Linked DNA regions of Homo sapiens: all the other regions are linked to region 1. The links come from fine-mapping of genetic effects on gene expression. A gene starts in region 1. Each other region holds a variant in brackets. All regions are shown on one strand. Distances are between the middles of the regions. Region 1 holds the start of ACOT13 (acyl-CoA thioesterase 13). Region 2 overlaps KIAA0319. Region 3 holds the start of C6orf62 (chromosome 6 open reading frame 62). Region 4 holds the start of LOC124901278 (a long non-coding RNA gene).

Region 1 (8,107 bases):
ATGCTCTTATTCACTATGCCATCCTTTCCTCCTCTGTTTCATTGTAATCCAATTCCATATTGATATAGTTTGGATGTTTGTCCCCTCCAAATCTCATGTTGAGATATAATCCGTAATGTTGGTAGTGGGGTCCAGTGGGAGGTGTTTGGGTCATGGAGGCAGATCCCTCATTAATGTCTTGGTGCTATCTTCACGATACTGAGTTCTTCTTGCAAGATCTGGTTGTTTAAAAGTATGTGGCACCACCCCACCCCCTTGCTCCTGCGCTCTCCATGTGATACCTGGGCTCCCCTTTCCCTTCTGCCATGATTGAAATCTTCCTGAGGCCCAGCAGAGGCTGGGGCCATGCTTCCAGTAGAGCCTGCAGAACTGTTAGCCAATTAAATCTCTTTTCTTTATAAATTACCCAGTCTCAGGTATTTATAGCAACACAAGAACCTAATACAAATATCTCTGCAATTTATGCAACACCCACAATATTTAATATTTAATGCAGCAAGAAAAACCAGGCAACTGTATTAAAAATTTCCTTTTGGAAAAATGAAAAGGGAAATAAACTCTAAAACGTTGCTGTACAGAAATACTAAGGGAACAGAAAGGGACTGGCAAACTTTAGGGGCATGATTTGTTGACTTCATTCCTAAGCAGAGGAGGAAGTGCTTTTGTCAGTATATCTGGTGTCTTAGGTTTTATGTGTTAGGCCAGTGCTCCTCAATTTTAAATCACCTGGAGATCTTGTCAAAATACAGATTCTGATTCAGTAGGTCTGGGTGAGACCTAAGATTCTGCATGTCTAACAAATTCCCGAGTAGCAGTGGCACGCTGCTGGTCCAGAGTCCACACTCTAAATAACAAGGCTCTGGGACACGGGCTTTCAATGCTGGCTCTGCATTAGAATTACCTGCACAGCTAATAAAAAAAAAAAAAAAAGCCAATAAGGAATAATGGGCCCCACTCAAGACTAATGAAATTAGAATCTCTGGTTTTTTTTTTAAATTCCCCAGATAATTCCAATATGCAGCTAAGATTCAGCATAGCTGTTTTAAGAGGATTTCCCTTGTCTCTCATCAGAGACACTGAAGATAGATTCTAATGTAGGGGACTAAATCACTTTAGTGTTCAATTTCAATTTTTGTTGATATCCCAGGAATTCACTCCAGAATTGAGATTCCTGCGCCATTCATTTAAGACAGCCAATGCCCTTGCTCAGCAGGGTTGAGTTTTTCTGGTCATAAAATCTTCCAATCAATTTTTTTTTCCCTTTCATTTTTGCTAAAGCCAACATCAAAAATCTAATCAGGTCACAGGCCTTAGAAACACGCTGAAGTTTGCCCCTTCCCCATTTTTCTCTCTTGAGCAAACTAAACTTTAAAACCTCACTCTCATTCATACTTGACCTGAGTTCTGAGAGACAAGAGACCACAGCCTAATCAACACCTTTGCTTGTTTTTGCCAATTTACCATTCCGGGGTAAGAGAATCCTAATAGCCATGACACCATTGATCAGCTTGATCCGCATCTTTTCTGAGGGCCTATTACAGGAAATCCACTTATTTTGTTACTATTTATTGGTTACAATATAGTCTGTTGCAACCAACAGACATTAACTCAGGTTGGTTTGACCAAAACAGGAGAATTTATAAGGAAACAAACATGTCACAGAGCCTGGTACAGAAATACAGCCATGTTTAAGGAAGGGCAGTTAAGGGCTTTCTCTCAATCCTACACTTCAACTTCCCTCTGCTTCATTGTCTCTCTGCAGACCTCTGTTCTCAGCTTCTCTGTACACAAAAAAAGATATGTATGAATCCTCACAGGTGCTAAGTTAACATGTTACAGTTCCAGCTCCATAGGAAGACTCAGACTTGACTCTCTTGGTCCTAATTCTGAAACCAAGGAGAGGATCTGACTGGCCAGTTTGAGCTAGGCAAACACCTCCTAGTCCAACTTGCTCTGGTTAGTAAAACGGGAGCCAGAGACAAATCACTGTGGGTGAGTAAACAATTCCCCAACAAGAGGCAAGACAGAGAAAGGAACCTAAAGAAAATATCTTATCACATCTGTAAGCCAGTGTAGCTGAAAAGACCAAAGGGAAAATAAAGTCTCCACTATGAACAGTCAATTTTACAGGTTGTACATATAGCTGGGAGAATTTTATACATTCAGTAAATATTTATTGGGAGCTTATTATGTGTCAAATGTTGTGTCAGACTTTGGGAAATTAACAATGTACAAAACAGATACTCCTTACTAGATGTGCAGTCTAGTAGGAGACATAAAATAATGAACAGCAATTATAATACGGACTAAGGTATTGTAACAGGGGTCATGCAGGATGCTATAAGAGTACCTAAAAGGGGACTCTTACCCAGACTTAGGACATCAGGAAAAGCTTCCTAGAGATAAATCATGTCTCAGCTTGGGGCTTTAAGACAAATATTAGCAAGGAAGGGAAAAGAAAAAAATTCCAGGCACAGGTAATAAAGATCTTTACGAAGTTTCAAAGACAGGAGAAAATGACCCGTTGGAAAAAAGTAAAAGTTTGATAGGCCTGGAACCTGGAAAGGCAGGTTCTAAGTTATGGAGCCAAATAGTAGAGGGCCTTGTAAGGCAGCTACACTTTTTAAGTGCAGGAACTGGAGAGGGGCACTGAAATAACAGGAGTAGGTGTGCATTAAAAAAAAATAACAACAACAACAAACCTGTTATTCTGGCCGGTCAGCCTAGGGCCTAGAATAAATAAACAATACAGGAAGCAAGGAGACTTCCAAGTTGCCATTTTTCGATAGAAGGTTTAGCCTTCGTTCATTTGTTTCAAACCTCTCGCTTACTTATTTCCTTTCATTTGAGTTAAACATTACATTTCCATCTTTTCCTCCCTGGACCCCAAATCACGTTCGAAGCGACAGTCTGGTGCAGTGTTAGATCCGCTGCTGGGGCGCAACTCCGCGCAGCAGCAGCAACGCAAGCCCTGCTCCTCTGGCTACGCAGCTTGGAGATCTGCCTCAGCATCGTCCGCCCAGCTCCACGGCAGGTCCCAGGACGCGCAGGGCTACCTGGTATCAAACTGCCTCCGTGCGGACTGGCTCCCGCTCCCCTCATCACTTACTAGGTCTTGGGCTCAGAGATGGTTTCAGGTCGGCGTTCCAAGGCGCTCTCCTCCACCGGAGGCTCGAAGTAGGAGTTCAGAGCCCTCTGAAAAACAAAGGCACAAGGGATGAGGTTTGTGCGCTCCACCGACCTAGGTAATGGAGCCGGAAGCGAGGACAGCGAAAGCGTACTTCCATCTCCCAGTCGTTCTCGGCCAGGAAGCACTGAGCCACTGCGGCATCGCAGCTTGCGACCGAGGCAAACTCCACACACAGAAGTCGCCGCTTTTTCACCTCAGGCTCGCCCTCTTCCTCCGCCGCCTCCCTCCCGCCCTCCAGGCAACTCCCCAACTCCATCTTCCTGCCGCCTCTGCACCGCCCCTTTAAGCGGAACAGGAGGCCAACGCGCGGCTCTGCGCAGGCGCCTGTGTCATGGCGCTCCCGCATCAACCGCCCGGCGGGGAAATGCGCTGCTCTCGGAAAACTGGTGCAGCTGCGCCGCAAGGGAGCCGCCGGGGCGGTGGGTGCGAAGCGCGCATGCGCGCTTCGTCACAAGGGTGCGAGGAAAGTCAGTGAGCAAATCGCGGACCACCGGGGCTGCCAGCTCGCCTGACTCCCGGCCTCTTGCGCTCCTAGGGGCGGAGAAGGGTGCGGGCTCTTCGCCCTTTGTGTCCTCCTTCTTTCACTAACTTCTGGACTTTCCAGCTCTTCCGAAGTTCGTTCTTGCGCAAAGCCCAAAGGCTGGAAAACCGTCCACGATGACCAGCATGACTCAGTCTCTGCGGGAGGTGATAAAGGCCATGACCAAGGCTCGCAATTTTGAGAGAGTTTTGGGAAAGGTATGGGAAAGGTAGGGGAGAAGCCGTGGCTTCTAATGAAGGAAAAGAAAGCACCGTGCTTGGTGCCGTTGTGAGCTTTGAATAATTATCTCTTGTTAGGTTGTGTTCTAGTACGCCTGTAAATTCACCTTAGTAATAATGATTATTACTTTAATGGAGCCCCTAAATATGCTGGGTCGAACGCGTAAGTTCTCTATCTAAACATAGATAAGTATGGTTATGACTCGTGGAGACAGTTCCAAGGCTGGGAGGGACTTTGGAGTTTGATCCTTCAACCAACAAACGTCTGCATTGCTCCAGAGAAGAGTAAGAGAAACCTCTGCATTTAAGGCACATTACAGTCTAATTCTCTAGGCTCTAGAAGATTAGAAGATAAATAATTGCAATAAGGTACAAAAGCCAAGTGCTTGGTAGAGTGGTGAACGAAGGGAGAAGTTGTTCCTCTGTAGTGGTTTGGGAAATTTCTCAAAGGCACCCAACTCCTGAAGAAGTAAGTTAGCCCTTGGAGGAAGACTGAGTGCTTTTCTGAGACCAGCACTCACAAAGCCCGAAGGTGTTTGTTTGTTTTTGTTTTTTTAGGATGAGGTTTCGCCCTTGTTGCCTAGGCTGGAGTGCAATGGCGCGATCTCGGCTCACTGCAACCTCCACCTCCCTGGTTCAAACAATTCTCCTGCCTCACTCAGCCTCCCGAGTGGCTGGGATTACAGGCATGCGCCACCATGCCCAGCTAATATTGTACTTTTAGTAGAGACAGGGTTTCTCCATGTTGGTCAGGCTGCTCTCGAACTCCCGACCTCAGGTGAAACGCCTGCCTCCGCCTCCCAAAGTGCTGGGATTACTGGTGTGAGCCGCCACGCCAGACCTTGAAGGTGTTTGTTGTTGTTGTTGTTTTGAGATGGAGTCTTGCTCTGTTGCCCATGCGGGAGTGCAGTGACACGATCTCGGCTCACTGCAACCTCCGCCTCCTGGGTTCAAGTGATTCTCATGCCTCAGCCTTCCAAGTAGCTGGGATGATTACAGGCATGCGCCACCAAGCCTGGCTAATTCTTTATTTTTATTAGAGACAGGGTTTCATCATGTTGGTCAGGCTGGTCTCAAACTGCTGACCTCAGGTGATCCACCTGCCTTGGCCTCCCGAAGTGCTGGGATTACAGGCATGAGCCACCATGCCCCGCCAAAAGCAGGGATTTACTGAAAATGAAAGGACACTCCTGTGTTTGGGGTGTGGAGCAGCAGCTCAGGGGCCCTAATACCCCATTGAAGTCTCCTATTGGCCACTTGGTACTCATCTCATGTAAATGAAGTGGTGACCCACAATTGGCTGTGAAAAGCAACCAATGAAAGGCTAAAGTGAAGTTACAAAGTTGCCCTTATATGCAAACGAAGACGTGGCGTGCAATCAGATGGTGAAGTTACATAGTTACACTCCTATGGGAAGATCTGATTGGTTGCAGAAAGAATAATTTTTTTTAAGGGATAACTTACTTCTTAGCGTAATTTTGCTTTTTGCAACCAATCAGAGGTACTTTCAATTTCCCATCTGCCACACAGAAAAGGTGGGGGTTTGGAAAGGGAGAAGCCTCTGGTTCTTTTGTTACTTGGTGTGGGAAGTTAGGGTTTTACTTTCAATTTAGTTCTAGGAAGTCAGCGTGAAACAGCCCTAGGTTCCCTGCCTCCAGATCCGATTCTCCTGCCTCGCTTGTAAGAAAATCATGCTCCATAAGAAGCATTTATAACTAAACCTTGTGAACCCCAAAAATTTGAGACAGGTATCAGTTAATTTAGAAAGTTTATTTTGCCAAGGTTGAGGATGCGCACGCAGTGACACAGCCTCAGGAGGTCCTGACAACATGTGCCCAAGGTGGTCAGAGCACAGCTTGGTTTTATGCGTTTTAGGGACATATAAGACATCAATCAATATATGTAAAATGAACACTGGTTGGGTTCGGAAAGGCGGGACAACTTGAAGCGGGAAGGGGGCTTCCAGGTCACGGGTAGGTGGGAGACAAATGGTTGCATTCTTTTGAGTTTCTGATTTACCTTTCCTAAGGAGGCAGTCAGATACACATTTATCTCAATGAGCAGAGGGATGACTTTGAATAGAATGGGAGGCAAGTTTGTCTTAAGTAGTTCCTAGCTTGAATTTTCCTTTTAACTTAGTGATTTGGGGGCCCAAGATATTTTCCTTTACATTTGCCCCCTTTTCTTTTTTTTAAAAAAAATTTTTTTTTGGAGAAAGCATTTTAGAAGAAAAATGAGTCTTTGGTCCCAGATTTCATCTGATCGCTCATGCTAGGATGGTTTATTCCTAGACAGGTAAGTCCCAAGTTATTAGGAAAGCTAATTTTTAGAAGGCTGTGAACTCCCATGTCTTGTGAAGAGAAAATAGGGGGAGGAAGGGTGAAAAACAACAAACAAAAGAACAATCCTGGAAAATATACATAGGCCACGTTATTCTGAAGTCCATACATCAGTAGGCAGGTATGAAAGTGGCTTATGCGTGTAAATAGGTTGCTGTTATTTTCTTCTGAAGTTTAAGTTGTCTAGCTTCAGTTTGCAGGGCTTTACAAAAGCACAGCTGTTTTCAGTGACTCCTAATTAGGAAAAAAAAGGAAAAGAAAAGAAAAAAATTAAAAATATTATTTTGGAGACTTGTAGCCAGGAAAAATTAGAATTCAGCCTAAACTGTAGAAAATAATAAAAATTGAAAAAATTAGGCAAGACTAGTATCTAACAACAAGTGGACTGTAAGTTTTGAAACAATTTTTCTCTCTCCAGTTTTCCATTTTTACTAAAGACAAATCATGGTAGGACTGATTTGCTTTATTATATTTGACCAGATTATTTATATAAAGTGTAGCAAGAATAATTATTTTTCACATAGGCTTTTTAAAATTGGCTTTGAAGGAACTTTGTTCCATAGAAGGAATCTCAGATAAGATTCTTTTTAAAGCCAAGCTCAGCCATGGATTTGTACCATCAAATACCTATGAGTAGGGTGAATTTCCTCTTTTTGATGTTCCATGATAAACCAGGGGCTCCTGGACCTGTCAGAAAATGACATTCTTTACTTAGCACATATCAGAAACCCTGTACAGGGACTTTGTAAAGTGTGAGGCCAGTTTTCCCAAGGGCTTTTATTGGCTCCATAAGTCAGGTTTGATTACTTAAAGGAAAGTACACCTTTCCACTCAAAGCCTTGGTAAAATAATCAGTTTCTCCAACTGTGTCCTGTTACAAATGAAAACAGATTCTTACTGCACTTATGCAAATAACTGTATTGGCACAAGTTAAGAATACTCACAAATAGTTTACAAATTCTGGAGAAATCAGGTAGAGAGAAACAAATATGCTCCAAATTTTGTTGATTGGAGTATACTAAATTGTTAAAAGCTGTCAATAGCTCAAAAGAAAAGTTTCAAGGCTCTGAAAAACAAAGCAAAAGATCAGCAATGTTTAAGCAAAAAGTCAAAAAGATTAGTTCAGTCCCCTTAGTTAATTCCTATTCTGCTTGATATTCATGAGCATTTTAGCTCTCCATGAGTTCTGAAAGTTTTTCCTCTATTCTCATGTAACAATCTCCAAAGTTAATGGAGACCTGCATTCAAGAGGAAACAACAGGTGCTGGAGAGGATGTGGAGGAATAGTTACGTTTTTACACTGTTGGTGGGAGTGTAAACTAGGTCAACCATTGTGGAAGACACTGTGGTGATTCCTCAAGGATCTAGAACTAGAAATACCATTTGACCCAGCCATCCCATTACTGGGTATATACCCAAAGGATTATAAATCATGCTACGATAAAGACACATGCACATGTATGTTTATTGCAGCACTATTCACCATAGCAAAGACTTGGAACCAACCCAAATGTCCATCAATGATAGACTGGATTAAGAAAAAATGACACATATACACGATGGAATACTATGCAGCCATAAAAAAGGATGAGTTCATGTCCTTTGTAGGGACATGGATGAAGCTGGAAACCATCATTCTCAGCAAACTATCACAAGGACAGAAAACCAAATACCGCATGTTCTCACTCATAGTTGGGAATTGAACAATGAGAACATTTGGACACAGGGCAGGGAACATCACACACTGGGGCCTGTCGTGGGGTGGGGGGATGGGGGAGGGATAGCACTAGGAGAAATACCTAATGTAAATGACGAATTA
Region 2 (8,107 bases), 82 kb before region 1:
GTGATGGGTCCACTACGTAGAAAAAGCTAAAATGTCCCAGAAGCCGCACTCCTAAAGTCAGCATAGAGAAGGGGCTCAGGAGACAGTCTCATTTGGATCTGTCAAGAGGCTGCCGCATGTTTGAAGCCTGAATTCTGGAGCACTAAAGATCACCTAGACAGGCCTTTAGCTTCGCTGCAGAGGGCTTCAAAGAGGCCTGGGTGAGATGGACCAGCAGAGGGCAGCAGTTCTCAAATGTGTGTATGGAACCATGCATTTTTACCACCTAGCTCTGGTGCATTGGTTGCCGGTGGTCTGGATGCCACACTTTGAGAAACACAGCTCCATGACATGAGGGTGATGCAAGTCTGTGTTGTACCATTAGCTGTGTGGTCCCAGGAGATGAAGTCAACATAATCATCTGGTAGGAGACTAGATCTCTAGTCGCTAAGTCGGTTTATATATCCTCCTAGGCCAGAAAGAGGGCATGTTTCTTGTGAGTGCTTGTATCATAGAACAATATGTGATAGGGCAAATTGTGACCTGGAATGGAATTATTGGCAACTCTAGAGATGTGCCGGACTGAGAACCAGAGATAAGTAGAATGTCCTTAACACTGCAAGGAGAGCAAGAGTTACAACAGGTTTTTAACCTCTCTGCAATGCTTGTGGGACAACCAGGCTCTTTTCCCCAAACTGAGATATACTAAGTAACCCAAATAAAGAAACGCCATCCAAAGCCTCTTAACCATCTGCCTGCCTACTTGCATGCCTGAAACTTTATTCATTCATATCCTACTTTTGATCTTACCATGAGAAAGATGTTTGCAGCTGGGCGTGGTGGCTCATGCCTGTAATCCCAACACTTTGGGAGGCCAAGGAGGGCAGATCACTTGAGGTCAGGAATTCAAAACCAGCCTGGCCAACATGGCGAAACCCCACCTCTACAAAAAATACAAAAAAATTAGCCGGGTGTGGTGACGTGCACCTGTAATCCCAGCTACTCAGGAGGCTGAGGCAGGAGAATCACTTGAACCCGGGAGGCAGAGGTTGCAGTGAGCTGTAATTGCGCTACTGCACTCCAGCCTGGGCAACAGAGCAAGACTCTGTCCCCAAAAAGAAGAAAGACGTTTGGGTTCAGTAGCTAAGAAGGTATTAACTGAGCTCTATGCCGTTACGCTGTGCTGTTAGACACAACCAGTCTCCAGTTACTTACTTGAGAGAGGTTAAGAGTTTGCTTGTGTCCTTGTTTTATTTCACCTTGGTAGTCTGTGGGGTGGCTTATTAAATTCCATTCATAGTTGTAGGTTGTTTCTGAGAGCAAAAAATAAATATGAGTAGTTATAAATTCTGAGAGGACACTAGATAACCTGGGCAGAGGGAAGATGACAGCCTTTAAACCACCAGTGCAGATTACCTTAGATATACTCAACTCAGCTTTCTTTTTTTTTTTTAACTTATATATATATTTTTTGTTTATTTGTTTTTATCCCCTCACTCTTGTTATCATCTTATGAACTTGACTTTCAACTATCAGCCAAGATAACATGTATCTTCTTAATGTAACATTTCTTTTTTTGTTATAAAAACATACGTCTTACAGGAAATTTTTAAAATGTATAAAGTTAAAAAAAAAAAAACCTCCCTAACTTAACCATTAGTATGTGATGAGTTTTTTCCTAGGGGGCTACATCTGACTATCCATATCAGTTTTAACATAGTATAATACATTGTGCTTTTCTCTTTTTAACAAAAGGCAAGGAGATTTCAATTCATTTGATCTGTTGTAGGGGTTTATTTAAGGACACAAAAACAGTATAAACATGTCTATGTTAAGATGAAACTGTCTCCCAGCTGCAGATATTAGTAGTTAAAATATAAGGTACCTCACCTCAAAGGATTAAAATGCAAATGCCAAATATTATCATCTCTGTGTATAAAATTTTGACCAATATGTGGTGGAGAAAAAAATGAATTAAGGAACTAACCTGAATGAGAAATAGTCAAACACCTTAAGAATGAGTTTACCTTAAAAACAATGCATTTGACAGGCCACAGGTCCCAGGTCAAATGCTTACTGAATGGTAGAGCACTGGACAAGTAGAAGAAAGAGCATTTTGAATAAATTTTTTTGAGCAGCTAGTGTGAGGCATCCTGAGAACCTGAGAGCCGTGATTGTCAATGCCACAGTATCTGCAAACAAACCTATGGGTGCACGCCACTTCCCTCTCATCCCGGTGGAATCTTCCCAGGTTCTATGGGTTATTACAGTTCAAGAACTGGTACGTGGCAGCCTCTCCTGATCTGCTTTGCATCATCAGAAATTTATGACTTTCCATCCTGACCAATTAAACGATATATACTGTATTTAATTTCCTAGATTCTTACTCCATTTGAAACTATTTCAACAAATGTTGATGCTTAAGAATAATCAAAGCCTTGTCCTCCACCTTTGTTTGTGACGTCGTGCAATACTGTGAAAAAGAATCGGCGTTGTAAATAGCCTGTAAGGACCTGCTGAAGAAAAACACCCCAGTTCCTAGTGGTCAGGGAGGAAGGTTAAACTCTCACCTACAGGTGGCGCTGGCGCAACAAAGGCCTTCAGTTCAACTTCATTGTCGGGTAAAGTTATAATTAGGTTATCTCCAGCCGATACCGTAAGTTCTTTCACTAAAAGTTAATTAGAAATAATACGTGCAATTATATAATATAATGTGTTACATTACTGCTCTACACTAGATCTGTTTTTGGTATCCATAAATTAAAATAACATATGCTTTTGTAATAGTTCTTCATAAGATTTTAGCTAAGGCACGTTTTTCCTCTGGCTAGAAATTGAACTGTACACTATATTATAGTACAGGGTTTTAAACCACAAATATGAGTTGGCACTGTGACAAAAATAATGATTCAAATTGACTGAGCAACGTATTGAGTGACAAGAGTTGCGTGAAACAGGTTTCATGCAACTGTGAATTGGGTCCATTTTCTCCCTTGCTATCAGCTTTTCTTGACGCCCTGGTGTGAGCTATTTTTAGTTATAAAAAGATTGAGTGTAATCCTAAGTGTTTCTGTCTCATTAGTCACACTCCACTCAGTTCTGAT[A/G]GTAGCCTCATGAATTACTGCTAATGGCCTTGTACTTGGAACCTTTCCAAGACAAAATCCAGTCACCCTCAATATAAAAAACCTATTTTAACTTAAGCAGCAGGAACATTAACTCTTATCAAAAGTGCTTAGCCACCAAGTAAGCATTCAGAACAATACTTGTTTACTTTCTCTGTAACCAGATTACATTGATATATTCATAAATTCTATCGGTTTGGCTCCATTGGACATTAGTTTCACTTGTAAAATATATTGCGATATGTCCAGATACTACACAGAGAAAAGCAAAGATTTAAAAAAAAAAAAAAAAAAAAAAAAGCTGAGTGCTCCAGAGGGATCAGCTGCAAGGAGATGTCAGACAGGTTGTTCATTTAATCCACTCCCCTCCTCTCAGTCCTCAGTCCCTCGAGTGCCTCCTAGATCAGCTGCAGAGGCTCTCAGTGGCTTTGCTGGCTCCTCTCTTGTCATTTTCACTAACTCTTTATCCTGAAAGTCAGCAACTGTAGACCTAGAAGGGACATTGATCCAAACCTATCATGTTATAGGTGGGGAAATTAAATCCTAGAAAAGCAAAGTTGTCCAAGGCTGTATGGTAATTAGCAATAGGTCCACCAATATTTAATTTAAATGTATTCATTTCAACAAACACTTATATACCGGATTAAACTGTGCCAGGCATTGCCCCAAGGGCTTTAAAATGATCAATTCATTTAATCCTCATTACAACTGTATGCAGTAGGTTCTATTAAAACCCAAAGATCCTGGGCCAAACTCCCAGGCCAGTTTCTTTTTCCGTATACTACACAGCTTCTCTCCCACTATTATCTTTCTCTCTATGGAAGCTCAGGCTCAAAGTAAATACAAAAGTTAGAGAGAGTAATCTCCAAAATACATGGCCCACAGAAAAGCTCAGGAAACATGACCCTTACGTCTAGCATATTCTAATAACTTCCTTATTGGAAAATCTAATGGAAGCTTTGCAATCCTCACCACAGCCTCTGCGACACATGGAGCTTTGATACGTCTTCCCTTTTGGAACTACAGGAGACCAGAACATGCCACCCCAAAATATGATTTGTGAAAGGGAAATAAATCTCGGGACCCCCAAATCACTAAGCCAAAGGGAAAAGTCAAGCTGGGAACTGTGTCAGGCAAACCCGCATCTCATTTTATTCCTAAACGAGATACCTACAAAGATTAAAAAAAAAAAAAGCTACATGCCTTCCTTATAATTTGCCCACAAGAAACTCCTTGTGGGCCTCAAGATCTTTGCCCTAAAACAGTTTTGTTGAATTTCACCCTGGCAATGTAAATCAATAGCTTATCTTCACAGGTGCAGGGGGTGGGGGAAAGAGCTCAGCCATCCCTCTGCTCACCTGAGACAAATGCATATCTAATTGTTTCCTCTGCCCTATTGTTTATGAAAAAATACAGATTCACTGAGCCAGACAAGGCATAAGTGACTATTCCTCTACCCCCTCTGGCAAGTAAATTGTGTATTCAGTGAAAGACTGATCAAAGACTCAAAAGAATGCAATATTTGTCTCTTATATACCTATGACCTGAAAGACCCCCTTCCAGTTGTCATGCCTTTCTGGACCAAACCAATGTACATCTCACACATACTGATTGATGTCTTATGTCTCCCTAAAATGTATAAAACCAAGGTGGCCAGGCACAGTGGCTCACACCTGTAATCCCAGTACTTTGGGAGGCTGAGGCAGGTGGATCACTTGAAGTCAGAAGTTCAAGACCAGGCTGGCCAACACGGAGAAACCCTGTCTCTACTAAAAATACAAAAATTAGCCGGGAATGGTCATGGGTGCCTGTAATCCCAGTTACTCAGGAAGCTGAGGCAGGAGAATCTCTTGAACCTCGGAGGCAGAGGTTGCAGTGAGCCAAGGTCACGCCACTGCACTCCAGCCTGGCCACGAAGCAAGACTCCGTCTCAAAACAAACAAAAAAAAACAAGCTGTACCCTGACCACCTTGGATACATGTCATCAGGACCTCCTGAGGCTGTGTCACTGGTGAGTCCTTAACCTTGGCAAAATAAACTTTCTAAATTGATTGAGACCTGTCTCAGATACTTTTGGTTCACAGACTGTAGGAAACTAGAATATGCCATTGCAACTATAACTCTTTTATACAAGGATTATTTTGAGCTGTGTTTTTTGTTTGTTTGTTTGTTTGTTTTGAAGAAACAGCAGACCAAGAGGAGCTCTGAAAACAGAGTAGAAGTTACTCCTTTGTAAGGGGAATTTATATCTATAAAGGAAATCTCCATTTGTAAGGGTCTCTCTCCTTCTATACCAGGAAGAGAAGGGTGACTACATTCCAAGAGATCCACATCCATAGAGAAGGTCCTGACAAATCTGCATAATGAACCTCACTCTTGCTTACTTCGTTTATTCTGGGCACCTTTGGCCACTTGCCTTCCCCACAATCCTCTTTCCTTGTTTTAGTTCAAGATGCTATATAAGCCAGAGTTCCAGGCTTATATAATATAAGCTTATATAATAAACCTCTCTGAGATTTCCTCATTTCCCTGGGCATCTCCCACGTATAGGTAAGATGTACATGTTATAAACTTGTTTTTTTTTTCTCTCTTGTTAATCTATCTTTTGTTACAGGGGCACTAGCCTAGAACTTAGAAGGGTAGATGGAAACTTATTCTATCCTCCTCCATAGAACTCTCTCCCTCTAGCTTTCCTCTTTATCTCCTACCTCTCTGGCACAACTACCCAATCAGTTTTGCAGGCTCCTTCTGCACTTCCAGCTCCTTATAGAACAATGTCCCCAAAGTTCCAGTCCTCAGGCCTCTCCTCAGCTAACCCCCCTCTCTCCCTGGATGATCTCCTATGTCCCCCGTGTCTGCAACTATCACCTCCACACCGATGACTCGTAATCCTTTATCTTCAGCCCAACTGCTCATCTAATTTTAGTTCTGTATTTTCATATGTCTTAGCGTCCTCTTCCTTCACATCCTTACATTCATTCAATCACTTATCAAATCTTTGTGACTCTGCTCCCTTCCTGTCTCCTAAATCTGGTTCCTTCCCTCCATCTCTGCAACCATTCACCATAGCCTTTTCATGGATCTTGTTGCCTCTAGTCAACTCCACACTATTTTCTTTTTTTTCCTTTTTTTTTGGTTTGAGACGGAATCTCACTCTGTCGCCCAGGCTGGACAGAATGCAGTGGCATGATCTCAGCTCACTGCAAGCTTTGCCTCCCGGGTTCATGCCATTCTCCTGCCTCAGCCTCCCAAGTAGCTGGGACTACAGGCGCCCACCACCACGTCTGGCTAATTTTTTGTATTTTTAGTAGAGATGGGGTTTCACTCTGTTAGCCAGGATGGTCTCGATCTCCTGACCTCATGATCCACCCACCTCGGCCTCCCAAAGTGCTGGGATTACAGGCGTGAGCCACCGTGCCTGGTCCCTTTTTATTCATTTTTTACTTTTTTCAAGACAGTCTTGCTCTGTTGCCCAGGCTGGAGTGCAGTGGAGCGATCTCAGCTAACTGCAACCTCTGCCTCCTGGGTTCAAGCAATTCTCCTGCCTCAACCTCCCAAGTAGCTGGGGTTACAGGTGTGTGCCACCACGCCCAGCTAATTTTTTTTGTATTTTTAGTAGAGATGGGGTTTCACCATGTTGGCCAGGCTGGTCTTGAACTCCTGACCTCATGATCTGCTCGCCTGGGCTTCCCAAAGGGCTGGAATTACAGGCGTGAGCCACCGGGCTCATCCCACACTATTTCTTAATACAAATCTGATCATTTTGCTTTCCTGCTTAAAACCATTCAGGGATTCTCTATACCCATCCAGGAAAGTGCAGAATCTTTAGCACAAAATACATGATCTTTCCAGTTCTTGTCCTGCTTACCACTCCAGTTCCAGCCATACTGAATCCCTTACAGTTCTTCCGAAATGTCCCGTGAGCTCTTGTACTTCTGTTTTCTTGCACAGGCAATGAATGAGAGATGATGGATGGGAAGCACTGAGCATATTGCCTGGCACTCTGTAAGTGCTCAGTAAATACAATGATCACGATTGTTATGAAACATGTTGCTCCCTCCACCTGAACAACAGACCAATGCCATTTTTGCTGGCTCACTCTATCCTAGCATCATCTCCTCTGGAAAGGCATCCCTGGACCCTGTTAGTGGATCAGGGTGCCCCTCTGCTCCCACAGCAGCCTCTCACAGCACTTACCATATTGTATCAGAACCACCTCTTTACCTGCCAGTCTCCTCTCCTGGACTATGGAGTCCCTGAGGGAAAAGACAATGTCTTATTCATCTTTTTATTCCCAGTATGCAGCACCGTTTCTGGCACATGATAGATGCTGAAAAATGTGCCTGGAGGGAATGAGTAAACTTTAAAAGTTGTCACCACCAAATTCTACAGCCTGTCTTCAGTACATTTCTTGAAATTGTATTTTTTAAAAGTTACCTGTCCTGGGAGCAGTGGTAGGAGATATGGGTAGCTCAGATGGGGTGGACTCAGAGGGGGCTGCGCTAGTGGGAGGTGTTGGGATGCTGTGCTCTGTACTCCCCGGGGTGACTGTGAGCACTGGGCTTTTCTCCACGGTGACTGAGCTGAGCTCCAGGCTTGCCGGAGGAAGACTATGGGAAGGCATTAGAACCTACGAGATCAATTACAAGGATAAATTGTTATTAAAAAAAAAACAGTCCAACTCTTCAAGCAACTCAATGTTACCAACCTTTTTCATAAATTAGCTTTGGTAATGTTTGAAAAACCATGAATAATATTGCAAAACTCTGGAACTCTAGACCATCTCTCTCAAGTACTCTCTTTGCTGTCTATTAGAAACATAAGGCAACTGTGGGTTGGACAATTAGTATAGGTGAACTCACACAAACACTCAAAGAATGAGAAAGTAATTATAGTAGCCCCTAAACTGACCAGTTCAATGGACTGAATGTTTCTGCCCCACACCTCCTTCCACCCCAAAAAATTCATTTGTTGAAATCCTAACCCTCAATGTGATAGTATTTGGA
Region 3 (8,107 bases), 52 kb after region 1:
ACTGGCAGGGTGCAGTGGCTCACACCTGTAATCTCAGCACTTTGGGAGGCCAAGGCAGGAGGATCACTTGAGGTCAGGAGTTCCAGACCAGCCTAGCCAACATGGCAAAACCCCATCTCTACTAAAAACACAAAAAATTAGCCAGGCATGGTGGCGCACAACTGTAGTCCCAGCTACTCGGGAGGCTAAGGCAGGAGAATCATTTGAATGCGCGAGGGCAGAGGTTGCAGTGAGCCAAGATCATGCCACTGCACTCTAGCCTCAGCGAAAGAGCAAGACTTTGTCTCAAAAAAAAAAAAAAAAAAAAAAGTCCGAGATCATCAACACCTAACACAGATTAAAGAAATCCCTTTATATACTTCATCCACATAAGAATGGTCTGGCGTAAAAAAACGTGTTTTTCTAATCCTATAAACACAATGCTTTAAAGTCATGATCCCAGTTATCAACATGGCACAAAGACAAATTTACCTGAAGAGACTGGTCACTATCATAACTATCCACTTTAAGGGGGGTTCGGGGGGCGGGGAAATGCAAGGTTAATCCACAGAAACTTTATCAAGTCAAGACTTAAGGCAGAACTTACCCTTCTCATAGACTGATATCGAGGAGCATGGAGCTGTACCACATCCTTCTGTAAAAGCTCTAGGGAACTTTCCAAGGAATAGCTGGAATCTCGCACACCTTTCAGGATATTTTCTTCATAATTATTTGTCATGACTGGTATAACCTCAGACACTTCAAAAAGTGCTGACTTTTTCTTCTAGAAGAAAAGAAAATGGTGTATTAACCCACAGGGAGCACAGCCTTTTAACACTCAGTTCATATTACAATGTCATGTAACATTAACTCCACAAAATTCTTAACTGTCTGCAGTAACTTATACACTGAAAACACATTTTCAGATAGGTAATTCCTTCTGTTCTTCCCCTACCTCCCCCTCCAACCATACATGTACAAACTGTCATTAGAATGTTTAATGCTTGAGTTTTATAGCATAATGGTATCCATAGCACTATTTTGGACAATACTTCTTAAAATTAAAAATCTCACCAGTTTTAAAACAACGCTATTCAGACAAATGAATAGTTTTATTCCTTATATGGGCCAATTTCCATTACTTTCTCAATATTACATTATCAAAACCATCAATATTTCTGGTTTTTCTTTTTTTTTTTTGAGATGGAGTCTCACTGTGTTGCCCAGGCTAGAGGGCAGTGGCACCATCTTGGCTCACTTGCAACCTCTGCCTCCTGGGTTCGAGGGGATCTCCTGCCTCAGCCTCTCGAGTAGCTGGGATTACAGGCCTGCGCCACCACACCTGGCTAATTTTTGTATTTTCAGTAGAGACAGGGTTTCACCATTTGGCCAGGCTGGCCTTGAACTCCTGACCTCAAGTGATCCGCCTGCCTCAGCCTCCCAAAGTGCTGGGATTACAGCCGTGAGCCACTGCACCCAGCCAAAACCATCAATATTTGAAAGACTAAAAAGAAGCACACCAAGTTCTCTTTTAATACTACTCAAGACCAAGTACGCATCACTAAACTACTTTTTAAAATTCTGTACTATTAAGTATATATCATGAATTATTCAGGGCAACTGCATGGACACTGTCCATTCACAGAATAAAACCAGATTATCGTTGGTGTTAAAGAATTAAGATGGTGCAATTTGGGGCAATATATAGATTAAATACAAAGATATGGTCTCACTACTTATTATCTTGGATTTATTTAAAGAGCATACACTGTATCATCTTCAACTAAAATCCAATCTCATCAATTTTGAGTCAGCTTGTCAACAAAACAAAAGTGGAGATGTAAGTCCTTGATACCACCCAATCTTGGGACAGTCACTTCAAAAATTACTTAAAAATCACTTCACAATGCTATACTTCAGCAGCTAAGAATGTTCTTAAATACAAATAACCTTTTAGGAGTTAAGAGTTGGGGCTGTGCGTGGCAGCTCCTGCCTGTAATCCCAGCACTTTAAAATGCCATGACAGGAGGATCACTTTAGCCCAGGAGTTCAAGACTAGCCTGGGCAATACAGTGAGGCCTGTCTCAGCAACAAAAATAATAAGAGTTAAACAGTAGGGGGAAACCTGGAAAACTTCCAGATACTTAATAGATACCACACTAAGATTGTATTTCTGATCTGAAATTAGCTAACAATTTAAGCACCAAAATCCAAGTAGCACTTCCTTACATTCATAACCTCATCTTTGGTCAAATAAGCCTTGCTGATAATTTAAGAAAATGTTCATTTTAAGTTGCAAAAAATACTGCTCTTATCATCCCATCCTTGACTACTCACAACTTACTGTTTGCTATTTAACTGCGGAACTAATTCTGATTAAGACCTCCACCGCCCCTAAAAATGAAACTTCCTCTAGGTCATTTTGAGTTTTTAAAAACTGTACTTCTATACAAGGCAAAATGAACTCTAAGTAAAAAAGAAAATCACACTTCTAAACACAAATTAACCATTTCAGTATTTAATTGCTCCTAAAAGGTGTATTCTACTTCATTAAATGTAAGAGAAAAGGTTACCTACATTACGCAGTTTAAGAAACAGGATAAACTTTAGCATATAAACAGTCTGATTACAATTTCACACTTTCAACCATCTTATTTATACTCTACATTAGATAATCTTTAAATTCCATCATAAGGTTTCCCATGTTAACTCCATATAAAATTTTGTAATCTTGCCCACCCCATGTCAACTCAGTGTATACTACTACTAAGCTTCAGACTCAAATTTATTTCCAAACCAAAGAACGCTCAAGGGTCTTTTCGCATGCTGCAACTGCTCAATTCACAGAATCACCCCTAAGGGTGAAAAAACAGAGCATACAAAGCAGACTTTTTTTCAACCACTCTTTAACCTAATATTCATAATAATTTAAGAGTAACAAATAATATACACTTACAAAAATTACTTGTGCTAATTCACCATTAAGAACTTTAAATTACCTTCTCCTTGAATACAAAGGCAATATACATCTTGAAGTCAAACTGGTCAGCTAGAGATTCTTTTTTCTTTCTAAGCTGAGCACGTAGTCTGTTCAGAGCTTGTTTCTTCCGGGAGTTTGGGTCCCCCATTTTGAAATACAGGTGGTACTAAAGCCTTTGGAAATTGTCACTAAACTATGGGCACTTTTTCTTAAGACTCAAGTACAACAGAAACAAGTCATTTTTTTTCCTGCTAATATGATTGATTAGCGAAAATCACGACTATAACCCAAAAACTGCACCTTCTGTCAATATTAGCAGACTGTCATATTACAGGGTCAAGAAACAAAAGCTGCTGTCCAGTCATGTTTGGACAATAACGTTTGGGGTCAGACGGGAAAAAGGGAGGAAAGAAAGGAAAGAAAGAGGAGAAAATAACTAACTTTCTGGAAAACACATTTGGCTTAACTGCCAAAATAAAGGCTTTGCGGAGAAATGAAAAGCCTATAATCAGGATTTAGGTGTGCAATAAAACACAGCTGACACCAGACCAATCCCTAAAATCCATCCGGATTTTCCCCCCTTTTTAGAAAAGGGATTAAGGAACAGGGAGGGGGAAGTGTGATCCTTGCTTTC[CA/C]AAAAAAAAAAAAAAAAAAACTCACCAAAACCAAAACCAAAACCAAACACCAAAACAGGGTAGGTGAATGAAACTGAAATATCCAATTAGATTTTACCCAGCCAGCTCCATGGCTGTAGTACCTAATTCTTAGTTATTTCAGATTTCACTATTGCTATGTATTGTCAGTGCTTGTTATTGATTACACTTGGTGGTGAGCATAGAGAAAAGTGCAAAATCGGTAGAGAAGGAAAGGGAGAGGTACAGGGTTTCCCTGCAATCAACTACAGTGTATACCGGGGGCGGGCAGCTGTGGCCCAAAGGAGCCATGAGAAAAAACAGCGGAGTCATTACCAACTTCCCCATCACCCACATTTTCACCCTCAGGCGGCTGCTAACGCTGCTGCCAAGGAGAATCATGACGGCAGAAGGAAAAGGGGTATATAATACGGTATTAATTATTCCGGCTCTGTGGTTAGACCTGATTAATGCCCGGGTTCCCAACACCCCCAGCCTGCAACTAGTCCTACATTCCCCAAGGGAGACTTCCCTGTGGATCTGCCCCCGTTCAAAATGGTGGGGAGTGCGATTTATCTTCTTGTGAGCATTGCCGAGGCAAAGGTGGCGGGTTCTTCTCCCAAATCCCAGGCGGTGCCCGGAGACCACCTGCCTTCCACCCCCGCAGGTCCCACCCCCACCCCTTGCCTTCAGCGGCAGCGACTCACTCGCACCACGGGAGACACAGGATCACTCAGGTTTTCACTCATTTCATCGTGGAAACAATTCCCGCCCGGGTGGAGTGGGCGGGAGAGGGTAAATGGGAAGGTTCAGTGGGGGAAAAAAAGAAAATAATTGTGTTAATATTACTTCTAAAGTAAGCCCACCCACCCTCCCCCCAAAAAATTAAGTTCCCGGATTAGCTCTCTCTCACGTTGAACAGACCATGTTTCCAGAGTTTGGATTGTTTAGGGTGGGGTCGTTAGTTGTTTCCCGAGGGGCAGGGGGTGGAATTGAGGCAGCTAGGGCGGGGTGGGTGACGGGGAAATCCCCTCCCTGTCCCCGCGGAGCCCGGGACTCACGGACCGACTCTAGGGCGGGGTTTGGGCCCTCTAGCCGCAGCCTGCGGGCGGAGCGGTGGCGGCGGCGGAAGAGGCGGCGGCGGCGGGGGCGCTGCTGGTAGCACGGGCAGGAGCCATGTCAAGAGAAAACCACCAGCCAACTGAGCCCCTCCATCCCCGCTGCAGTGCGCACCGTGACTGGACCGCCCGCGCTGCTGCCGCCGCTCAGCCCCCACCTGGGACCCATAGTCTGGCTCGGCGCCCTGGGCGGCAACGGAGGGGAAGGACGCGGAGACAGCGGCAACAGGGAGAGAAAAAGAAAAAGAGGAAAAACAAAGAGAAAGATGGGGAGTTGGATTGGTACTGGCGGCGGAGGGGGAAGGGAAAGGAAGCCCTGCGCTAAGGGTCAGCAAAGTAACCCCCCAAAATAAAGTTATTTCAGTTCAAGCATCTGCTCTTGAGTCTTTCTTCCCCCTACAGTCGGATTCCGGCTCTCAGGAAAGGTCGAGGAGACCCGGAGGGGGGAAAAGCCGAAGCGGTTGGTGAGCGTCCGCGGCAGTACTGCCTCGTTCCCCCCCCCGCCGGTGGCTGCAGAAGCGGCGAAGGCCTCGGGCGCCTCGCGGGTCCGGGGCAGAGTCGCGTTTGAGAAAAGAAGCGAGAACAAACAACTTAAAATGGCAGCGACGGCCGCTGCGTCACCCGCCTCTCACCGGCACCGCCCCGGTGTGACTGCGACTGCGCGCCCTGCGGGACCCCACCATTTGCGCAGAATCAAAGGGGGAGAAAGGATTGGAGGTGGGAAAGTTTTCAAGGTTACCGAAAAAGAGGAAAACAGATCAAGAGTACGGAATAGGGACAGGTCTTTTAAAAGTGGAGCCTTTGAATTTAACCTCTCCATTTCAGTAATCGCCCCTCAAAAGGGGAGTTTGAGAGTTGAGACTCCTCTCTCCTCCAGTATGGAGTATCCAAGGGGCGTGGAAAGGGGGGGGCTCCCCGCCACTCCTTCCGCCCCCCTTCTTCAGGAAGTCCCAGTCTCCTGAGTTGGCTCTTCGCCCCGCCCCGATGTCGTCATAAAAGCACGCCCTCAACCATCCTCAACAAAACACCCGGATGGAGTCGCACTTCCCGAGTCTCGTCAGCCTCTCAGAGTCAGGCTGGGCGCGTGACAGAGCCGAACTAGCGACCTGGGCGGGCCAAAACTGCGGAAGTCGGCGGAGAGTGGGCGAGGGTAGGGGCGGAGCAAAGAAGGAAAAGGAAAGTGTGTGTTGGAGATTGGAAGATTCTTATTTCGATTCTTATAATTAGTTAGTCCTGGGGGTCGGCCCCGCGGTATCCTGCGGCAACAAACCTAGAACTCAATTCGACACCTGGAATTTAAACGGCGTGCGGGAGCAGATGTCTCATGTTAGTGCTACTTGCCTCTGTCCCCACCCCGCCACGTGCGCAGGCAGGGAGGGCGGTCCTCAAGCTTCGAACAAGGTCAAAGACGTTGTTCAGACGTTGCTGCTGTGGCTTAGGAGAGGAGCAGCCCAGTCTGACTCGTGGATTTTTACCCACTGCTGTCAGAACACACTTTCTGTTAGAATCCCCCAAGACCTCAGACCTACAGCCTGCCCCTTAGGTGGTTCACTGTCTTCATCGAAACGTTTGCCGCCGAGTCGCACGTCCTTGGCACCAAAAAGCGTTGAGTCCATTTTTCAAAGCTCTAATGTGCTCTTTAAAACACAGTTATGTAAGTACTTAGCAAAGGTCAATACTCCACATAAGCAATGCTTATATACTCATTGGCTACTCTGAGATTTTAGAAGTCCATTGGGACCCCAATTACTACTTTTCACTTCGTGAAGTCAAAACAGATCAGCTGTAATAACATTATTTCAGCCATGAGCCAAAAGAATAACTGGTACCCACCCTTCAATATAAATTGTCCAGAACCAAAGGATGAGTCCTGAGATTTCCAAATAACTTCTAATCTCGGAAGATACAGCTTGCATTTTGCTAGTGCTTTGCTGATTTGTTTTCAAAATCATGTAACTATGGAAAGCTCACAGAGATAAAACAGAAAATGTCACGTAGTTTAGAGCATTGGTTTAAAAAAGAAAGATTTTTAAAAGTAAGCCGAGCATGGTGGCTCACGCCTGTAATGCCAGCACTTTGGGAGACCGAGGCAGGCGGATCACCTAAGGTCAGGAGTTCGAGACCAGCCTGGCCAACATGGTGAAACCTCGTCTCTACTGAAAATACTAAAATCAGCCTGGCTTGGTGGCAGGCGCCTGCAGTCCCAGCTACTCGAGAGGCTGAGGCAGGAGAATCGCTTGAACCCGGGAGGCGGAGATTGCAGTGAGCCGAGATCGCACCATTGCACTCCAGCCTGGGCAACAGAGTGAGACTCCGTCGGAAAAAAAAAAAAAAACAAACAAACATATGAGACATACAAGCCAGTATGATCTTCAGGTGATCCGCCTGCCTCAACCTCCCAAAGTGTTGGGATTACAGGCATGAGCCACCATTCCCAGCCGGCTTATATGTTCTTGACCTGGCCTTGACTTGTATCCATGATCAACTTCATGGAAGAATTTTTAAAATAACAGCTTTATTGAAATATAATTCACATACCGTATTTATCTACTTGAAGTGTACAATCCAATGGTTTTTAATATATTCAGTGTTGTGCAGCCATTACATTACCCCAAAAAGAAACCCTGTACCTATTAGCAGTCACTTCTCTTCTTTCTAGTTTATGTTCTGTCTATAGATTTGCCGTTTCTGAAATTTCATATAAATGAAATCATTTAATATGTGGTCTTTTGTGACTGGCTTCTTCACTTAGCATAATGTTTTCAAGGTTCATCCATGTTGTAGCATGTATCAGTACTTAATTCCTTTTTATTGTGGAATAATATGTATTGTATGAAATTCTATATTCATTCATCAGTTGATGGACATTTGAGTTGTCTCTGCCTTTTGGCTGTTATAAATAATGCTGCTATGAACATTTACTTAAAAGCTTTTGTATAGACGTATGTTTTTAATTCTCTTGGGCATATACTTAAGAGTGGAATTACTGGGATATATGTTAACTCTATCTTTAACCATGTGAGAAACTGCCAGATGTTTTCCAAGTCTGTTGCATCATTTTACATTTCCTCCAGCAGTGTATTCCAATTTCTCCACATTCTTGTTATTATGTCTTTTTTAGTATAACCATCCTAGTGGGTATGATGTATGTCATGGTGGTTTTGATTTTCCTTTCCCCAACGATTAATGATGTTGAGCATCTTTTCATGTGCTTATTGGCTGTTCTAATATCTTCTTTGGAGAAATGTCTATTCAGAACTTTTGCCCATTTTTATTTATCTACTTGTTTATTTATTTATTTTTTGAGACAGAGTCTCGCTATGTTGCCCAGGCTGAAGTGCAGTGGCATTATCTCAGCTCACTGCAACCTCCGCTTCCTGGGTTCAAGCAGTTCTTCT
Region 4 (8,107 bases), 25 kb after region 1:
TTGTTGCAGCATTATTTGTGATATCAAAAGTGGGAAATAGCTGGGCATGGTGGCTCATGCCTGTAATCCCAACACTTTAGGAGGTGAAGGCAGTAGGATAGCTTGAGCCCAGGAGTTTGAGACCAGCCTAGGCAACAAAATGAGATCCCATCTCTACAAAAAAATAAAAAAATTAACCAGGTGTGGTGGTGTGTGCCTGTGGCCCCAGCTGTGCAGGAGGCTAAGGTGAGAGGAACCCTTGAGCCCAGGAGGTCGAGGCTGCAGTGAGCTATGATCATGCCACTGCACTCCAGCCTGGACAACAAAGTGAGACCCTGTCTCAAAAAAAAAAAAAAAAAAAATTGTGTGAGGGGAAATAACCTAAATGTCCAACCATGGGAGAATTAGTAAAAGAAATCACAGCAACTGCATGTGACTGAGTCCTGTGTTACTATAAGTCACATCTTAAAAATGACTTACTAACAGGAGCATGTCATTAAATGATGTGCACCTTAAAAACTTAGAAATTTCAATTGTTTATTTTTAAAAACATCTACATAGCACTATGTGTCAGGCACTATGCACTTTGTTCATCTGAACTCATCTTTTTATGGCGAGAGATACAATAAAAGTCAAAATACAACGGTCTGGAATTTCACCATATGAATTGGTGTTAAAATCTGATAGGTAAAAAGAACTGTAGAGACAGACTGTAATAGGTAAGTAGGCACAAAAGACATAAATAGGCTGTTCACAGAAAAAAGGCAATAAACATTAAAGGATGCTTAAAAGCACTGTGAGTCTGGCTAATGCAAATTAAAACCATGAGATACTATGTTTTGCTTGTCAGAGTGTAAAAATTAAGGTAATATGCATCTTTGAACCTAGGAGGTGGAGGCTACAGTGAGCTGAGATTGTGCCACTGCACTCCAGCCTGGGCAACGAGAAAAAGACTCCGTCTCAAAAAAAAAACAAACTTTAAAATATATACTCTTAATACCCAGCTATCTAATTTTGTCAGTCTGTCATATACAAATAAAGCATCTTTGTGATGGTAAAAAAAATATAGAAATAACACATTTTAAGAAATAGTTTGATAAATTGTAGTATATTCATAGTAGGGAATACCACACAGCTATTGAAAGAGATCTATATACATTGGGCTGGAGGCTGCGCATGGTGGCGTGCCTTCTCCTTTTGGGTCACTTAAGCCCAGGAGTTTGAGTCCAGCCTGGGCAAAATAGAGAGACCCCATCTCTAAAAAAATTAAAAATAAATAAATTGAGCTAGAGAAATGACTGTGATACATTGGGAAGAGAAAAATGAAAGCTGCCAAGTAATGTATATAATATGATCCCATTTTTGTAATTGAATAAAAGGCAAGAAAAACACCCTTTAAGAAAATTTTGTATACCCTGTGTATATATGAGTAAGCCTAGGGAATGGTATAGAATGATATTCAGCACCGAAAGAGTAGTAGGTAGGAAATTGTACTTCTATGCTGCTTTATATATGTAAAATGAATGTTTTTATTTTTATAATTAAAAATCTAATAAAAACAGTAAGTTAGATGGCGCAGAGATAGGATTGAAGGAATCAGCATACAATTAGTGAAGTAATGAACTCAAGAGTTATTCATATTTTAGAGGAAAGGAATGTGGCATAAACTCACAGCAAATATAAGTATTTTATAAAATTAATTAATTTTAGCAGTAGTGAATGGATGACCAATTTCAAGAGAAATGATGAATACATTTTCTCTGCCATGGAACATAGTCAAGATTTAGTTCTTTCTATGTAGATCCTCTGAGCTACTGCTGAATTAAAAACAGCACTAAGAAAAAACTGTAGTTTTTACTTGGCCATCCTAGGAGTTCCAGGACTTTGTAGCATACAAAGTGAACAGAGATGATTTAAACTTCTTTGTGCCTGTTTTGTTTTGTATGACTAATGGGCTGTTCCCCTGGCCTTGATTTGCCAGATTTGCATTCCTTCAGAGCATCATCCCCTCCTGGGAACTACCGTACTAGATTCCAAACTGAAGCTCAATTGCAAAAATTCTACACAATTTGCGCTTTCCCTCTTTAAAGGAGAACTGGAAGTGTGAACAAGCATTTCCCAAATCCTCAATCTATGGAAGACAGGATAAGAAAGGCTCCTTCCCTGTCAGCCCCCTTTTCCCAGGTTCAAGGCAGTAGAGAACCTGTGTATCAGAGAAGTCTTGCCAATAAGATCCATGTGATAGAGGCCTTCAGAGCACCCACCTTTATAGGCATTCCAGAATGATTCAATAAAATCTGCCACTTACCAGCCTTTGGGGAAGAAAAATATAGTGATTTCTTTTTTAATCATTAAACTTTGTTTTAGTGGGATAGTAATTGTTTTTATTCTTTTGTAGCATATCTGTCACCACCACCACTATCTCAGTGAACAAAAAGAGTGTTACTTAAGCTTAGCTAACTAACCTTCAGGGAATATTTAATTTAATTCCTGTTTGCTCTTCCCTAGGGCTTTGTTTTGCTTCCCATGGCATTAGTTTGCCAACTCTTGTTATTTTTGGCCTTCTCTTATAACCCTTGCTGTTTTGTACACTCCCTGAGGATTAGGGCAACATCGTACTCACCTTTGGATCCTCTACCCTTGCCCCATTTGCCTGCCATTTTCACTTATCCTTCAAAGTCCTTTGCAGGTGACACCTGCTATCTCTGAGAAGGCTTCCCTGGCAGCCCCAAATGTCTTCCTCTGATCTACTTCTACACCTTGACTAACTTTTGTTATAGAACTTTCTGTATATTATTGAAAATATCTGCTGATTTGTTTGTCTTCCCTCTATACTTTTTCCTTGGGAGCCAAGTCCATATGCTTAATAACCATTTGTCAAAGGGAACTTTAGTGCCTAGTGGAAGGTGCCCAGTTGAATGCCTTTTACATAGAAGATTCTCCCCATAGTTTGTTCAGTTAGTTGCTGAAGCCACTAAATATTGGGCATATTGTTATAGAATGCTCCTTGTTGACCTTCAGGTTTCAGTGTATTCATTCACTCAACAAATATTTGAGTGCCTACTATGTGCCTACACCCTTACTGAGCCAGAGACATACATTCCTTTAGGAATGTATTTAGCTACTAAAACATTCCTAGTCTAGGTACTGGAGATACATCAGTGAACACAACTGACAAAAACGCCTGCACGCAATGGAAGTTCTATTTTAGTGGAGCAAATCAAACACTAAACAAAATAGGTAAAGAGAATATATAGTATGTTAGATGGTGATAATTGCTATAAAGGAAAATAAAGGTGGAAGATAGAGAGTATTGGTGCAGGAGAACTTAAATCCACCCCCCACCCTGCCCCAAGATGTGTATTCCTGTAAGTTCTTTTTTTAAGAATTCAATTTTAAATCTTATCTGGAAAGATATCACTGAAACAGTGACGTTTCAATAAAGACCTGAGAAAGTCATGAATACTGAAGGAGGAGAGTGTTCCAGGAAGGGGAACAGAAGGTGTAAAGGCCCTCAGACTTTCCATTGCTGTGCTTTCCATTGTTTGAGGGCCCCATTAGAGAGGGTTTTAAGCAGATGAGTAACATAATTTGACTTCTACAGCTGCTCTTTGACTTACGATGAGGTCGCATTGGGATAAGCCCATCATAAATTGAGATACTTTCAACTTAACAATAGTTTCATCTGAACATAAAGTCAAGGATCATGCTGAAGGCATATCACTTTTGCACTGTTGTTTTCTGTCAAGCAGTCTATATTTTCAAAGGAGCATTCTTGTAGCTACTATTGAGACTAAACATGGGGATGGTGGCAAGGGCAGAAATAGGGAGATAAATTGGAAGTCAGTTGCAACAGCTCAGGAGAGAAATATATCCTATATCCTTCTGAGTGAGTCCAGTATCAAGTCTGGTCTTTGAACGACTAGTTAACTCTAAGACTTAAGAGCCAGCAAAGGAGACTGGGGAGTGGCTGGGAGAGTAGGAGGAAAACCAGGAGGAGGTGGTGTCATGGGAGTTAAGGGAAGGCTAGGAAAAGTTCACGACGTCACCAAATGCTGAGAGGTCACTTAAGGGAAAGAGAGGCTGCCAAGGGTCCTTTGAGTTTTGTAGTTAGGTCATAGTTGACCTCGGCAATAGAAATAATTTTAAGAAAATTCATGCCAAACTATACAAACCAAAGTTTCTGTTTGATAATAGTTTTTATAATAAGGATGCAAATTAAAGTGGTGTTGTTTTGGGGACAGGGTCTCACTCTGTCAGCCAAGCTGTAGTGCAGTGGCACGATCACAGCTTACTGTAACCTTGACCTCTTGGGCTCAAGCGATCCTCCCCACCCCAGCTTCCCTCGGAGCTGGGACTGCAGGCACATGCCACCATGCCTGGCTAATTTTAAAAAATTTTTCTAGAGTTGGGGTCTTGCTGTGTTGCCCAGGCTGGTCTCAAACTCCTGGGCTCAAGCAATCCTCCCACCTCAGTCTCCCAAAATTAAAATGTTTTGATCACCTGTGATATACCAGGCCTTGTCCTAATTTGAATTTTAATCTTAATTTTTACAAAACCCTATAAGGGCAGTACAGTACATTATCTCTATCAATGGGGAAACCTCAGTTCAGGGTCTTGCCTAAGTCTGCTTCCAGAGCCAGTACTCT[C/T]AACCATTAAGCGGAAGCCACCTGTGTAATGAAGCTACTGAAACATACATTATAAAGCAGAAATGCTGGACTGATAACAGCAATATGGTTGAACCATGGTACTTTTATAGCATCTACCTTTCTAGAGCCCCTTGAACATAAATGTCATCTGTGTTTGTTGCTGTTGCTACCCCATCACACTGCCACATCCTGTCTTTTTACCTCCTTTCCTGCTTATATGAAGGTGCATTCATACACTGTCCTTAGACACACCTCCTGTCATCTGCAGTGTCACACACAAAGTTAGCAACATCCATGGTCAGGGAAAATTGCTTGAAAACAGCCTTATTCACAAATATACACATACAAAATTGTCATCCATTAAGATTGTCTGTTTTTCTTTGTGCTTCTGTAGACAGTCTTCTTTTGGGGGTGGCTCACGTGTTTATGTACACAGATTTTCTCATACCATATGTCACACTCCTGTGCTTGAGGCCCATTACAGACACCCTTACTGAGCCAGAGACATACATTCCTTTATCTGTTTAGCAGAGGCAGTGGAGGCAGTGGTGGTGAGCTGCATAGCAGCCAGCAGCAGTTACAGTGATGGCAGTGGCTTGTTTATCCCACTGCTCAGCAGAATGCAACCCTTTTAAAAAAAGACCAGAATGATCTGAGATGCCAAGGCTTAAAGAGAATTCTTGGTTCTCAGCTTCATAAAGGACCATCTCAGTGATGAATAACAGCATCTTCACTGCTGTTATTAGGCAGCCCTTCTCCCTATCTATCTTTGCTGAAAAAGTGAGGAAAGGAGAGACTCTGTGTCATGTGGAGTGTCTCTTTGTGATGAATTGTATCTCAGATGGGAGAGGGAGGGTGAGGGGCTATGGCAACCTGAGTCTTTTTTTTTTTTTTTGAGACGGAGTCTCACTCTGTCGCCTAGGCTGGAGTGCAGTGGTGCGAACTCGGCTAACCTCCACTTCCACCTCCCAGGCTCAAGGGATTCTCCTGCCTCAGCCTCCCAAGTAGTTGGGATTATACGTGTGCCCCATCATGCTTGGCTGATTTTTGTATTTTTAGTAGATACAGGGTTTCACCATGTTGGCCAGGCTGGTCTTGAACTACTGACCTCAAGTGATCTGCCTGCCTCGGCCTCCCAAAGTGCTGGGATTACACAGACGAAGTTGCATAAACTCATATGAATGCATGAAGTGCAAGGAAGAGACAGCACGATATAAGGCCATATATAAAAGGGACAGATTATTGTATATGTGTGTGTACATGTAAGAATTGTTATGATATACTGAGGAGCCCATTGTGGCAAATAGTGCTGAGCCATAAAAGTTCTTGCCAACCTACTGCAATTGTCCAACCTGCAGGATCCTGGGACTGAACACATCTGGACAGTTCTCTGTATTGTTAGGCCATGGCAGGTAAATTTTTGACCCCTTGACATCATAAAAGCCTCCATACCATCTTCACCAAGACACCTAAGGAATCAGAACCCAGTTGTCTGTAGCAGTCCAGGTGATATTTGAGGGTAGGCTGTTTTGCATAATGGTTAAACCTGAGACATCCTAGTTAAACTTTTCGACAGTTTCTCATCTGTAAAATGGAGACAATAGTATTCACTTCAAACATTGGCAGCACTGAGACAGCACATGTCAAATTGCTCAGCATGGTCTCTAACATGGAGTTAGCTATGTTGATATAACTGAATAAACAAGTGTGTGCCCTACAGCCCATCTTTACCAAGGCTGAGATGTTTTTTTCACAAGGTTCTCTCCCTACTCCCCTTCCTCATCAGAAAGAAGTTAGCTTTGCATTGGCCTCTTCCCCAGCAAGACTACTTATTAGCTCTGGGAGGGTGGGCAGGACATTCCTTCATCATCTTCCGTTGGTTTAATTCTCTTATTTGACCTGAGGAGACAAGAATTGAGAACATATAAAGGCATTTATATTGCCATATCAGGCTGCCCAGTAAAAAATTCTCTCTATTCCAATGTAAATTTTAAAACAATTTTATTAGTATGTCCTTTGGCCTTTCAAGTTGGGGGGAAAAATCAAAACCAGTATTCTGTACTAGAAAAATCTAACTGACATTTGTCTTACATTTTGTCATCCCAGCCAAAGTTAGGTAATCAAATGGAACTTTAAGAACTAAGCTTTACTGAACAAACTGTGCCTTAAAATACACTTAAACTGAGGCGCGGTGGCTCATGCCTGTAATCCCAGCATTTTGGGAGGCCGAGGTGGGTGGATCACCTGAGGTCAAGAGTTCAAGACCAACCTGGCTAACATGGCAAAACCCCATCTCTACTAAAAATACAAAAATTAGCCAGGCATGGTGGCACGCACCTGTAGTCCCATCTACTCAGGAGGCTGAGGCAGGAGAATCACTTGAACCTGGGATGCAGAGGTCGCAGTGAGCCGAGATTACACCACTGCACTCCAGCCTGGGTGACAGAGCGAGACTCTGTCTCAAAAAACAAAAACAAAAACAACACATTAAAACTACCTTTGCTGTCTACAAGCCGCTCGTATTTAGTTCTATTTCTTCAACTGCCTGGCTTTTTCCCTTATCTTCACCTGGATAACTCCTGCCTGTTCTTCAAGACTCAGATGTCGTTCTCCAGGAAGCCTTTCCTAATGTCTTTTCCCTGGAAATATACATTTTTAAAAGTTAGATATCTTTACTCCAAGAAACCTGTATTTATTCTGTCTACAACAGTTTCTTCCTCTGCAGTTTTTGTACTTGTCTCTTCCTTTAGACACTGAACCCGCTAAGAGCAGGGATTAAACTTCATTCATTTTTTACATTGCCAATGCCTGCTATAAAGAATCACATAAATGTGTGAATGAGGTTAAGTTTACACCTTATTCCTGCTCGGTGTGTATTATTTAGTTTATGAGGACATCTTGTGGCTAGATCATTTATTGCTATAAACAGACGATCATAGGCCAGGCGCGGTGGCTCACGACTCTAATCCCAGCACTTTGGGAGGCCAAGGTGGGTGGATCACCTGAGGTCAGGAGTTCGAGACCAGCATGGTGAAACCTCATCTCTCCTAAAAATACAAAAATTAGCTGGGTGTGGTGGCATGTGCCTGTAATCCCAGCTACTTGGGAGGCTGAGGCGGGAGGATTGCTTGAACCTGGAGGGCAGAGGTTGCAGTGAGCCGAGATCAAGCCACTGCACTCCAGCCTCAGCAACAGAAAAGGACTTCATCTCAAAACAAAAAACAAACAAAAAAACAAAAAACAAAAAACCCAACAACAAAAATCCTGTTCTAAAATTTATTTTTGACATTGATTTACCTGTTTTGCAAAACATGACATAATATTGTTTAGGATGTTTTATATCGCGTGGTTCTGTTTTCCTTCAGGGCCTTCAACAATAAAACCACTAAATAGGTGGTTTGTGAAACTCTCAAATGTCTTCCTGGTGGGAGTCATACCTAGAGGTTACTCATATATAGTTAGTGATTGGGAGATGTGAA

Evidence for each region. PIP is the estimated chance that this variant, and not a neighbour inherited with it, causes the effect.
Region 2: its variant is fine-mapped to the expression of ACOT13 in atrial appendage (GTEx, PIP above 0.99).
Region 3: its variant is fine-mapped to the expression of ACOT13 in whole blood (INTERVAL, PIP above 0.99).
Region 4: its variant is fine-mapped to the expression of ACOT13 in subcutaneous fat (GTEx, PIP 0.96).

What each region holds. Positions count from the first base shown.
Region 1 is chr6:24,663,417-24,671,523 of GRCh38, forward strand. ACOT13 (acyl-CoA thioesterase 13) reads left to right here and starts at 3,661. Exons shown (of 3, transcript NM_018473.4): 1 at 3,661-3,928. The coding sequence starts at 3,848. TDP2 (tyrosyl-DNA phosphodiesterase 2) reads right to left here and starts at 3,483. Exons shown (of 7, transcript NM_016614.3): 1 at 3,282-3,483; 2 at 3,110-3,195. The coding sequence starts at 3,446. It overlaps LOC124901279 (a long non-coding RNA gene), which reads right to left. Exons shown (of 2, transcript XR_007059509.1): 1 at 7,233-8,107; 2 at 5,701-6,522. RefSeq lists enhancers at 2,529-3,201, 3,202-3,873, 3,405-3,699.
Region 2 is chr6:24,581,055-24,589,161 of GRCh38, forward strand. It overlaps KIAA0319, which reads right to left. Exons shown (of 21, transcript NM_014809.4): 4 at 7,539-7,731; 5 at 2,550-2,648; 6 at 1,195-1,292. Among named protein-coding and RNA genes, the nearest start is that of KIAA0319, 61 kb to the right of the region's middle. The variant A/G (reference allele first, on the strand shown) is at 3,084.
Region 3 is chr6:24,715,562-24,723,668 of GRCh38, forward strand. C6orf62 (chromosome 6 open reading frame 62) reads right to left here and starts at 3,593. Exons shown (of 5, transcript NM_030939.5): 1 at 2,979-3,593; 2 at 587-763. The coding sequence starts at 3,107. RefSeq lists enhancers at 4,274-5,067, 5,367-6,116, 5,862-6,655, 6,247-6,296, 6,347-6,436 and a silencer at 4,637-4,806. The variant CA/C (reference allele first, on the strand shown) is at 3,594.
Region 4 is chr6:24,688,219-24,696,325 of GRCh38, forward strand. The region is part of intron 1 of ACOT13 (acyl-CoA thioesterase 13); the gene reads left to right. LOC124901278 (a long non-coding RNA gene) reads right to left here and starts at 7,553. Exons shown (of 2, transcript XR_007059508.1): 1 at 7,126-7,553; 2 at 1,489-6,527. The variant C/T (reference allele first, on the strand shown) is at 4,629.